2 separate regions of the Homo sapiens genome follow, and region 1 is linked to region 2. Evidence: fine-mapped expression QTL. A gene starts in region 2. The other region holds a variant in brackets. All regions are shown on one strand. Distances are between the middles of the regions.

What was found. PIP is the estimated chance that this variant, and not a neighbour inherited with it, causes the effect. A credible set is the group of variants that fine-mapping cannot tell apart.
Region 1: its variant is the best candidate, but not a certain one, in a credible set for the expression of SIAH1 in whole blood (INTERVAL, PIP 0.64).

What each region holds. Positions count from the first base shown.
Region 1 is chr16:48,198,611-48,203,002 of GRCh38, reverse strand. It overlaps ABCC11 (ATP binding cassette subfamily C member 11), which reads left to right. Exons shown (of 30, transcript NM_001370497.1): 15 at 2,524-2,727. Among named protein-coding and RNA genes, the nearest start is that of LONP2, 43 kb to the left of the region's middle. The variant T/C (reference allele first, on the strand shown) is at 2,362.
Region 2 is chr16:48,383,025-48,387,416 of GRCh38, reverse strand. It overlaps SIAH1 (siah E3 ubiquitin protein ligase 1), which reads left to right and starts at 2,004. Exons shown (of 2, transcript NM_003031.4): 1 at 2,004-2,213. RefSeq lists silencers at 1,576-2,395, 2,496-2,565, 2,656-2,925.

The DNA.
Region 1 (4,392 bases), 180 kb after region 2:
GGAGAGCTGACCTCAAGCTCCTTCTTCTGAAGCAAGAGCGGAGACCCTGTCAAGATGAGAAACGCTGCATCGCCCTTGCCCCACTCCGGCTGGTGCAACATCAGCCATGACCCTCAGGGGAAATTTCTGACTGTAACATTTCCCCGATAATTCCAATCTTTTACATCTGCAGCCACCTTAATACACATACGACCCTCACCCGAGATAAAAGTGGCATTGCCTTCTTGATATTAATGGTCTAATAATATCTCAGTCTGTTGAACACTTACTACATGCAAGGTGCTATTCTAGTGACTTGAATGTAGTGTCTTAGGTGAGAGTCACGATAATCTCAATAACCTCAGGAGGGTAGTCTCTTAATTCTTCTTCTTCTTTTTTTTTTTTTTGAAGGGGAGTCTTGTTCTCTGTCTGTCACCCAGGCTGGAGTGCAGTGGTGCGATCTCGACTCACTGCAACCTCCACCTCCCAGATTCAAGAGATTCTCCTACCTCAGCCTCCTGAGTAGCTGGGATTACAGGCATGCACCTCCAGGCCCGGCTAATTTTTGCATTTTTAGTGGAGACAGGGTTTCGTCATGTTAGCCAAGCTAGTCTCAAACTCCTGGCCTCATGTGATCCACCCAGCTCGGCCTTCCAAAGTGCTGCGATTACAGGCATGAGCTACTGCGCTTGGCCTATTCTTCTTCTTTTAAAGCTGGGACTATAAATCCTTGATGGCAGAGAGCTCAATGATCTTATTCAAGGTTGTTTCTTCAATAGGAAGAACAAGGTCTCATCTGTAAAATGGCATAAATAAGAGTACTGACCTGATCGGATTGCTTTGAGGTTTAAATGAGTTAATACAAAGTGTTTTGACTAGTGCCCGGCCTAGAGTAAGTGTTAACTATTATTGTAAGAGCACAGTAGGCATTGAATAGTGTTTGATGAATAAGTAAATGAATGAATGGGGAAACTGGGCTTTGGCCAGATCAAGCAGGTTGTCCAAGGTCACACAGTGGTGACCTGGAAGCACGGCAGGGACAGGAGTTTTCTCTGCCACCATTTCAACTCTGATTCTTCTCTACAGAGACTTCAAGCAGTCAGGATAGAACAGGAACTAGGACTTACACTCCAGCTCCCACTTCCTCAGAGCCTCAAGGAGGGATGGGCCAGCTGGCAGCTGCCTGGAGTGCTAATCTGCAAAACATGCTCAGTAACTTGGGTTTCCACCCTCAACTCCTATCACAGCAGGTGCCGTGTGAGATGGTCCTTCCAGCGTCAGTAAAGCTCCTTGCAGCCATTGTAGCTCTGGTCTGTTGAGTGGGTGCACACAGTGCAAATAGTCTTTGACGACACCTGTAACCCAGGCCAATGGTCCCACAAGTTGACAGGTGCTGTCAATGGAGATTAAAAACCTGAATAAGGCCAGGTCCAGTGTAACCCCAGCACCTTGGGAGGCCAAGGTGGGAGAAATTGCTTGAGCCCAGGAGTTTGAGACCAGCCTAGGCAATATAGTGAGACCTCATCTCTACAAAAAAAAAAAAAAAAAAGAAAAAGAAAAAAAAAGGTTTAAAAACATTGGCTAAGTGTGATGGCACCGCCTGTAGTCCCAGCTACTCAGGAGGCTGAGATGGGAGAATCGCTTGAGACTGAGAGGCGGAGGTCGCAGTAAGCCATGATTGCTGGTGCCACTGCACTCCAGCCTGGGCAACAGAGGAGACCCTGTCTCAAAAAACCAAATAAATAAAACCAGAATAATATGTGAGACAGTGCTCTGACTTGGGAATAAGTGACTTATTTTATTATCTGAATTTTTAATAGTTTAATGTTTGCCTCCTAGAAGTTGATAGGTTTAGAAAAATTGTATCTAAGTAAGAGTTACAATTTTTTAAAAGTCATATATCTTTAAATTTAGATTCAGGGGATACATGGAGAGTTGTAAGATTTTTAATTAATTGAGAAGCAATTTATTCATCCCCTACTAACCACGTTTTGAAAAATATTTTTATTGATGCATAATATTTGTACATGTTTTTTGGGTACCTGTGCTATTTTGTTATATCTGTAGAATATGTAATGATCAGGTCAGGGCATTTAGGGTATTTATCATTTCTATTGTGCTGAGAACTTTTCAATCCTATCTACTAGCTCTGCTGAAATATACAATACATTGTTGTTAGCTATAGTCATCCTATTCTGCTATCAAACATTAGAACTTATTCTTTCTATCTAACTTGATGTTTGTATCCATCAGCCAACCTCTCTTCATTCTCACCTCCCTTCCCTACCCCCAAAAATCCTTTCCAGCCTCTGGTGTCCATCATTCTACTCTCTACCTCCACGAGATCAGCTTTTAAGCTCCCACATATGAGTGAGATATATA[T/C]GTATTTTTAAGTCCAGAATGCCAAATTATCAGGTATCCTGGAGTGTGTGCATATCTTGGTCTGTACTGAGGGGGTTCTGTCTGCTACATCTGCCTACCCATTTGAGCACACCTGGCTGTGCTTGCTGTCTGGACATGGTGCCTTTTACTGCCTGTCTGCAGATTGGAGAGCGGGGCCTCAACCTCTCTGGGGGGCAGAAACAGAGGATCAGCCTGGCCCGCGCCGTCTATTCCGACCGTCAGATCTACCTGCTGGACGACCCCCTGTCTGCTGTGGACGCCCACGTGGGGAAGCACATTTTTGAGGAGTGCATTAAGAAGACACTCAGGGGGAAGACGGTCGTCCTGGTGACCCACCAGCTGCAGGTTAGCACCCTTCCAGGGCTCTGACTGTGATTGACGGATAACGTAGATCCTCAAGCCTTTGCCATTTCAGAGTGTGATTCAATAACAGCCTCCCAGCAGCTGTCCTCATCTCAGGTTAGACTCCTCCACATTTGGGGAGGGCTGTAAAAAACTTGGATTTCCTCTGCTTTCCACACAAAGCAAACAGACTGGTAGAAGATTTTTGTGCTGGTAAAAATTGAGAACAAATTTTATGGTCTCCTTTATCTTCAAAATTTTTTGAGTAGACCCCTGCTTTTCAACTTATAAAAAATGAAAACAGGCCGAGCACGGTGGCTCATGCCTATAATCCCAGCACTTTGGGAGGCCAAGGCAGGAGGACTGCTTGAGACCAGGAGTTCAAGACCAGCCTGGGCAACGTAGAGAGACCTCCCATCTCTACAAAAATTTAAAAAAATTAGCCAGGTGTTGTGGTGCATCTGTGGTCCCAGCTACTGGGGAGGCCAAGGTGGGAGGATGGAGCCCCGGAGGTCAAGGCTGCAGTGAGCTGTGAGTGCCACTGCACTCCAGCCTGGGCAACAGAACAAGACCCTGTCTCAAAAAAAAAAAAAAAAAAAAAAAAAATCAATAAAAAAGAAAAGAAAAGAAAAAGAAACCAATCTCTCAGAAAAGAATTCCCCAAGTCTCCCATTCTTAGATTGAGAGCCATCTCAGTGTGTTTTCTTACCGATGATGACCGCAGTGCAATGACTGCTTCTGGTGGTGCTTCTCCTGGGTCATTTTCCCTTGAATATTTTCATCTATGGCATTGGCCACAGTGCCTTATTATTTTCTCTCCCCCTTCTTCTTCTGTTTCTTTTTCTCTCGCCCCTTATTTTTGCTTTACTATTTTTTTTTGGTATAAAATATTTAAGACCTAAACAAGGTTTAGAAAATAATTAATAAAAACCCATGTATCTACCACCCAGATTAAACAATAAAACATTGATTCCACTCTCCAATTCTGTTCCAGTTCTCCCTTTCTGCTCTCCTGACTTTGTTGTTTATTGTTTCCATGCATGTCTTCATACTTCTACAGTGTATGCATGAATCTCTAGACATGAAGAAATTCCTTTTGCATATTTTTAAACTTTATAGAATTTATTTTTTACTTTCTGTGTCCTTTGGTAATTTCATTTTTTCCCTCAACATTATGTTTTTTGAGATCTTCCATGTTGATACTTGTAACTTTATATATATATAGATATATATATATATTTTTTTGAGACAGAGTCTGACTCTGTTGCCTAGGCTGGAGTGCAATGGTACAATCTCAGCTCACTGCAGCCTCCACTTCCCAGGTTCAAGCAATTCTGCCTCAGCCTCCCGAGTAGCTGGGACTACAGGCACACGCCACCACACCTGGCTGATTTTTGTATTTGTAGTACAGACGAGGTTTCACCGTGTTGGCCAGGCTGGTCTTGAACTCCTGACCTCGTGATCTGTCCACCTTGGCCTCCCAAAGTGCTGGAATTACAAGCATGAGCCACTGCACCCAGCCTTATAACTTTATTTAATTCTCCTTGGTATAGCATTCCAATATCTGAATGTACCAGAATTTATTTCTCCAAGATGAACAGTTGTTTCTTATTTTTCACTTCTACAAAAAAAAAAAAAAAATACTTCAGTGTATATCCTTCTACGTGT
Region 2 (4,392 bases):
GGGAGTAAATTAAATTTATAATGGTGATGTTTATGTCCCACCCATAGCTACCACCCAGAATTAACCAAATCAGATTGAGCCCCGCCCAAATCTAGGTAGGAATTCTCAGAGATGGAATTAACCCGATTAAATTTGTTTTGTATAAAAGGGAAGTGGGGAAAGTAAGAAGTAACTTGGACTCTTCTAGAGGAGAGCAGGCACAAACTAAGCCAAGAAAAGCACGTTTGAGAATTCCAGAGGCAGAAGTTGCTTCTGGGTGCCTGACGTCAACGATCCAGCACTTCAAGACTGGTGTGCGGCATCCTCAGGGGACACTGTGTCCTGGGCACCCCTGCAGTTTAAGAGAATCCACTAGTTTATAAGGTAAGTCCTCGACTGTCAGCAGTGGGCCAGAGACAGACTGTTATTTTCAGATGGACAAATGCTGTTGGGTAGAGGAAGGGATGCGGGATAAGGAGGACAAAATCTGACTTTGGCAAAGCCGGGTGTTTAGAACTTTAATCGCCACGTTGGCAAGTTCTCTCTTAGTCCGTATCCATTTCACTGCTTGCAGAGCGGCCCAGGGGTTCTGGGGGCGAGAAACACATCTCACCCCAGAGCTGCTCCTCGCCCAGGACAGAACTCCTCTGCCCTTCACGACCAGGTCAAGGCCACATGGCTATGCCAAGCACATAGTCTGTAAAAATGGAAAATTTACCTCTAAACTGAAGTGAACCGAACTCTATTGACCTTCCCGTGTACTGAGGAGCTATAACTTCTCCCCAAAAATGTGAAAGTAAAATTGCAGTTTAAATCATGTAATTAGGAATACTGTAAACTAGTGTTTTGCACATATAAACTTTATCATACACTGGGAATTTGTACATACGTGCCCGGTATGGGATTTTTCTATTTTTATTTTTATTTTTTTGAGACAGAGTCTCGCTCTGTTGTCCAGGCTGGAGTGCAATGGCCTGATCTCTGCCTCACTGCAACCTCTGCCTCCCGGGTTCAAGCGATTCTCCTGCCTCAGCCTCCGAGTAGCTGGGACTACAGGCGTGCACCACCACGCCCGGCTAATTTTTGTATTTTTAGTAGAGATAGGGTTTCACCATGTTGGCCAGGCTACTCTCGAACTCCTGACCTCAGGTAATCCATCGGCCTCGGCCTCCCTAAGTGCTGGGATTACAGGCGTGAGCCACCGCGTCCGGACGGAATACCATTTTAATAGATCTTACATGGAATTCCAGTTAGGGCTTGTAAATGTCTCAGATGCTTGCTTCTGCTCATAGCACCCATCAAAGAATTGCAAGTGATGTTTTCCTTTTATTATTTCAAGAAGTGGAATGCAGAGTCCCTAATTAGGGACTTTCCAGATGAGCATGGACACAGGAAAACGCGTGCTTCCCCATTACCCACTTTTCAGCTGAAACAAGCTTTTGAAGCTCGTCCCGCTGTTGCTGAGGAGCGGCTCAACCTCGGGAGAGGCTGGGACTCTCTTTAGGGGTGGGGTCCCGGTCGGCGGGCAGGGCAGCCGCTTTTTCTTTGGGACTGAGTGGAGTTGGGAAGGATCCGTGGAGGCGCTGGGCTAAATCAGCAGACAAAACAAGGGGGAGGGCACAAGGCCGCGGCGGCGGCCAGCCTGGGGCTCGCATCCCGCTGGGCGACCCCTCCGGCCGGAGCCGGGGGGGTCACGCGGCCCCGGAACAAAGCGCCGCGGGAGGAGCTGCCCTGAGCCGACGGGCAAGCGCTAGCTTCTCGCGGGCCAGAGCGCCACGTGCCAGGATCCGTTGAATGCGCGGTGCACGGGCGCAGCAACGGTAGCCGAGTAGCCCCCGCACCTACTGCCGCCTTTGGAGACCCGCACAGCTACGCCCGCGGAGGCCGCCGCCGGCCGCGCCAACGCCTGTGCGCCTGCGCGCCCGCGAAAGCCCCGCCCCCCCAGGCTCCCAGCGCGCGGGGCCGCGCCTCCTCATGGCCGCCGCCGCAGTGTGTGGTATTTAGCGGGGGCGCGCGGCGGGCTCGAGGACGCGCGAAACGGCGGCGGCGGCGGCGGCCAGGGGGGAGCCGGGGCGGCCGTTGCGGGGCGCGCTCTCGAGAGGCGGCGGCGGCCCAGGGTGTCCCGTCGGTCTCGGCGCCGGGAAGAGGCGGTGGCGCTGCCCGCGGTGGCGGGGGTTGGCGACGGAGCGCGTTGGTGCCAGGACCGGGGTCCGAGGCGCGCTCTCCGCCCACAGGTAAGTGGGGCCCGGCCTGAGGGAGGAGCCGGCGGCGAGGGGCTCTCCGACAGGCGGGCGCCCAGGCCCGGTAATGGCGGAGGGCGGGAAGGGCGGCCCGGCCGGGGCGCGGGCAGTAGTCGGCGCGGCGGCGCCTTTGTCTCGGCCGGAGTCGGGCCGCCCGGTCGAGCGCCGCCCCCCGCCCCTCCCCTGCCTTCAGCCTTCGCAAGCCGGCTCGCCCCCGCCCCTGGAGCCCCGGGCCCGGCGGGGTGGCGGCGGGGGTCGGCCCCGCGCGGCCGGGCCGAGGGCGGGGGAAGGGCCTCGGCGGCGGCCCGGCCCCCGCGCGCCCGGGAGGCGGGCCCGGCCGGGGGTGGCGCCCGGCGCGCCCCGCGCCCTCGTGCCGGCCTTTGTTGTGGAGGGTCCCGGGGTGTGCGGCCAACATGGCGGAGGTCAGCTGAGTGCGGGCAGCTGCCGGGGCCCTGCCCTCCCTCCCCCTCCTCCCCGCGGCGCCCGGAGGCCCGGGCCGCACCGCGCCGCTCGGCGGGCCTCGGCCTCCGCTCTCTGCCCCCGACCCCCGGCTGGAGCCGTCCGGGACGGGGCTGCGCTCTTCCTGCCGCTTCGGCCGGAGGCTTCATTGTGCAGTGGGAAGAATGCAGCCTCCTCCCTTGTTTATGTCGTTAGAGAGGAGAGCGCGTGAACGGCGTGCCGGGGAAGCTCTAGCTTATTATAAACCTGGCATTTCCTAGGGTTCATTTGCCGGGTAGTTTGGGGTCCTTTCTTAACTCTCCCAAATTTATAACTTAAAGTGAATAACCTGGGCCACTCCGATGCGTAGGTTCGTTTTCGCTGTCTGCCCGTTCCTGGAAAGATACATAATTTGTTTGCTCGGACATTCAGAAAAGTCCAGCTTGGGTGTTCGGAAAATCAGATTGTGTGTACTTCTTTTGCCAAAGTCATAGAGGCCATAAACAAACAGAGAGACATGGATACTGGATATGGGACGGTGTTCTGACTGTCCCTTCCTAGCAGTTGAGCATTTACCTTTGCTTATAGCGGCTGTCAAGGGTAAATTGTTAACTCTTCAGCAGTTGGATGTTGAGAGCACGGGCTGTGAAGTCCGACTGTCTGCTTTGGGTCAAATCCTGCTCCACTGGTTTGTGACCTTGGGCAGATACTTCTCTGTGCTTCGCTTTCCTTATCTGCAAAATGGGTGTAACGACAGTATCTACCTCAAGCCCTGTTGAGAATTGATGAGATGACAATAGGTGGACTGAAAGCAGTGGCAGCCCCATACTAAGTTCTCAACAAATGCTTACTGTTAAGACTGTAGTTTAATAGCTAAACTTACGAGGTTTTCTTGGCATGATGTGTTGGTATGATGAAAGTGCATAGACCAGAATTTGTGAAATCAGGTCACAGATCTTTAGTGCTGGGTTTTTTCTTTCAATGCATTTTGTTGTTAAAAAGGACAAGGAGATTTGTATGATAAATTAACAGACTTTCTGAGATGGTGGCATTTTGGAAATTGCTGTGGCCGGGGATTTGAATGGCTATATCTTTGTGATTAAAAAAAATCAAATTGATTAAAATGAGGTCTTCTCTTAGCTAGTTTAGATTTATTGATCAGTTCACTTTCAAGGACTTGAGTTAACCAACTTAGAAAAGTGGGACAGTGAATACTTGAGTGTGTATCTATGGTGTTACCATCACTTTTAGAAGTTACTGAAGAGCAGAATGTAGTGTGGTGGCAAATGTAATGGTCTGGTAATTTTATCTGGGAGTTGTTGGCTCAAATTATGGTGGAGAGGATTTTAATTAGTTGTTAGGAGGACTTTAGACTGGTAGATCTTGAGACTCAAAGTAGATTACACAAATTGGTTGTGTAGTGTTTCATTCTGAAAATTTAAATAAAGATACAGATTTCTGTAATCTTGGATGGTTAGTTGCGATTATATCCAGAATTTGTTCCCCAAAGTTTATGCCAAACAGTTTTTTTTTCGTTATTGGCATCTTTCCAACATAATTTACTAACATTTAATATTTTAAACTGAAATACGTATAATAGATGTGAAACTGATAACTTTTCAGGATAAGTATTCCACAAAGTACAAATTCAGAAACAATGTTAATGCATTTTACATCTGTTAAATATTAATCTATTCCCTCTAAGCTTCGGGAAGTTCTTACGAAATTGCTGTAG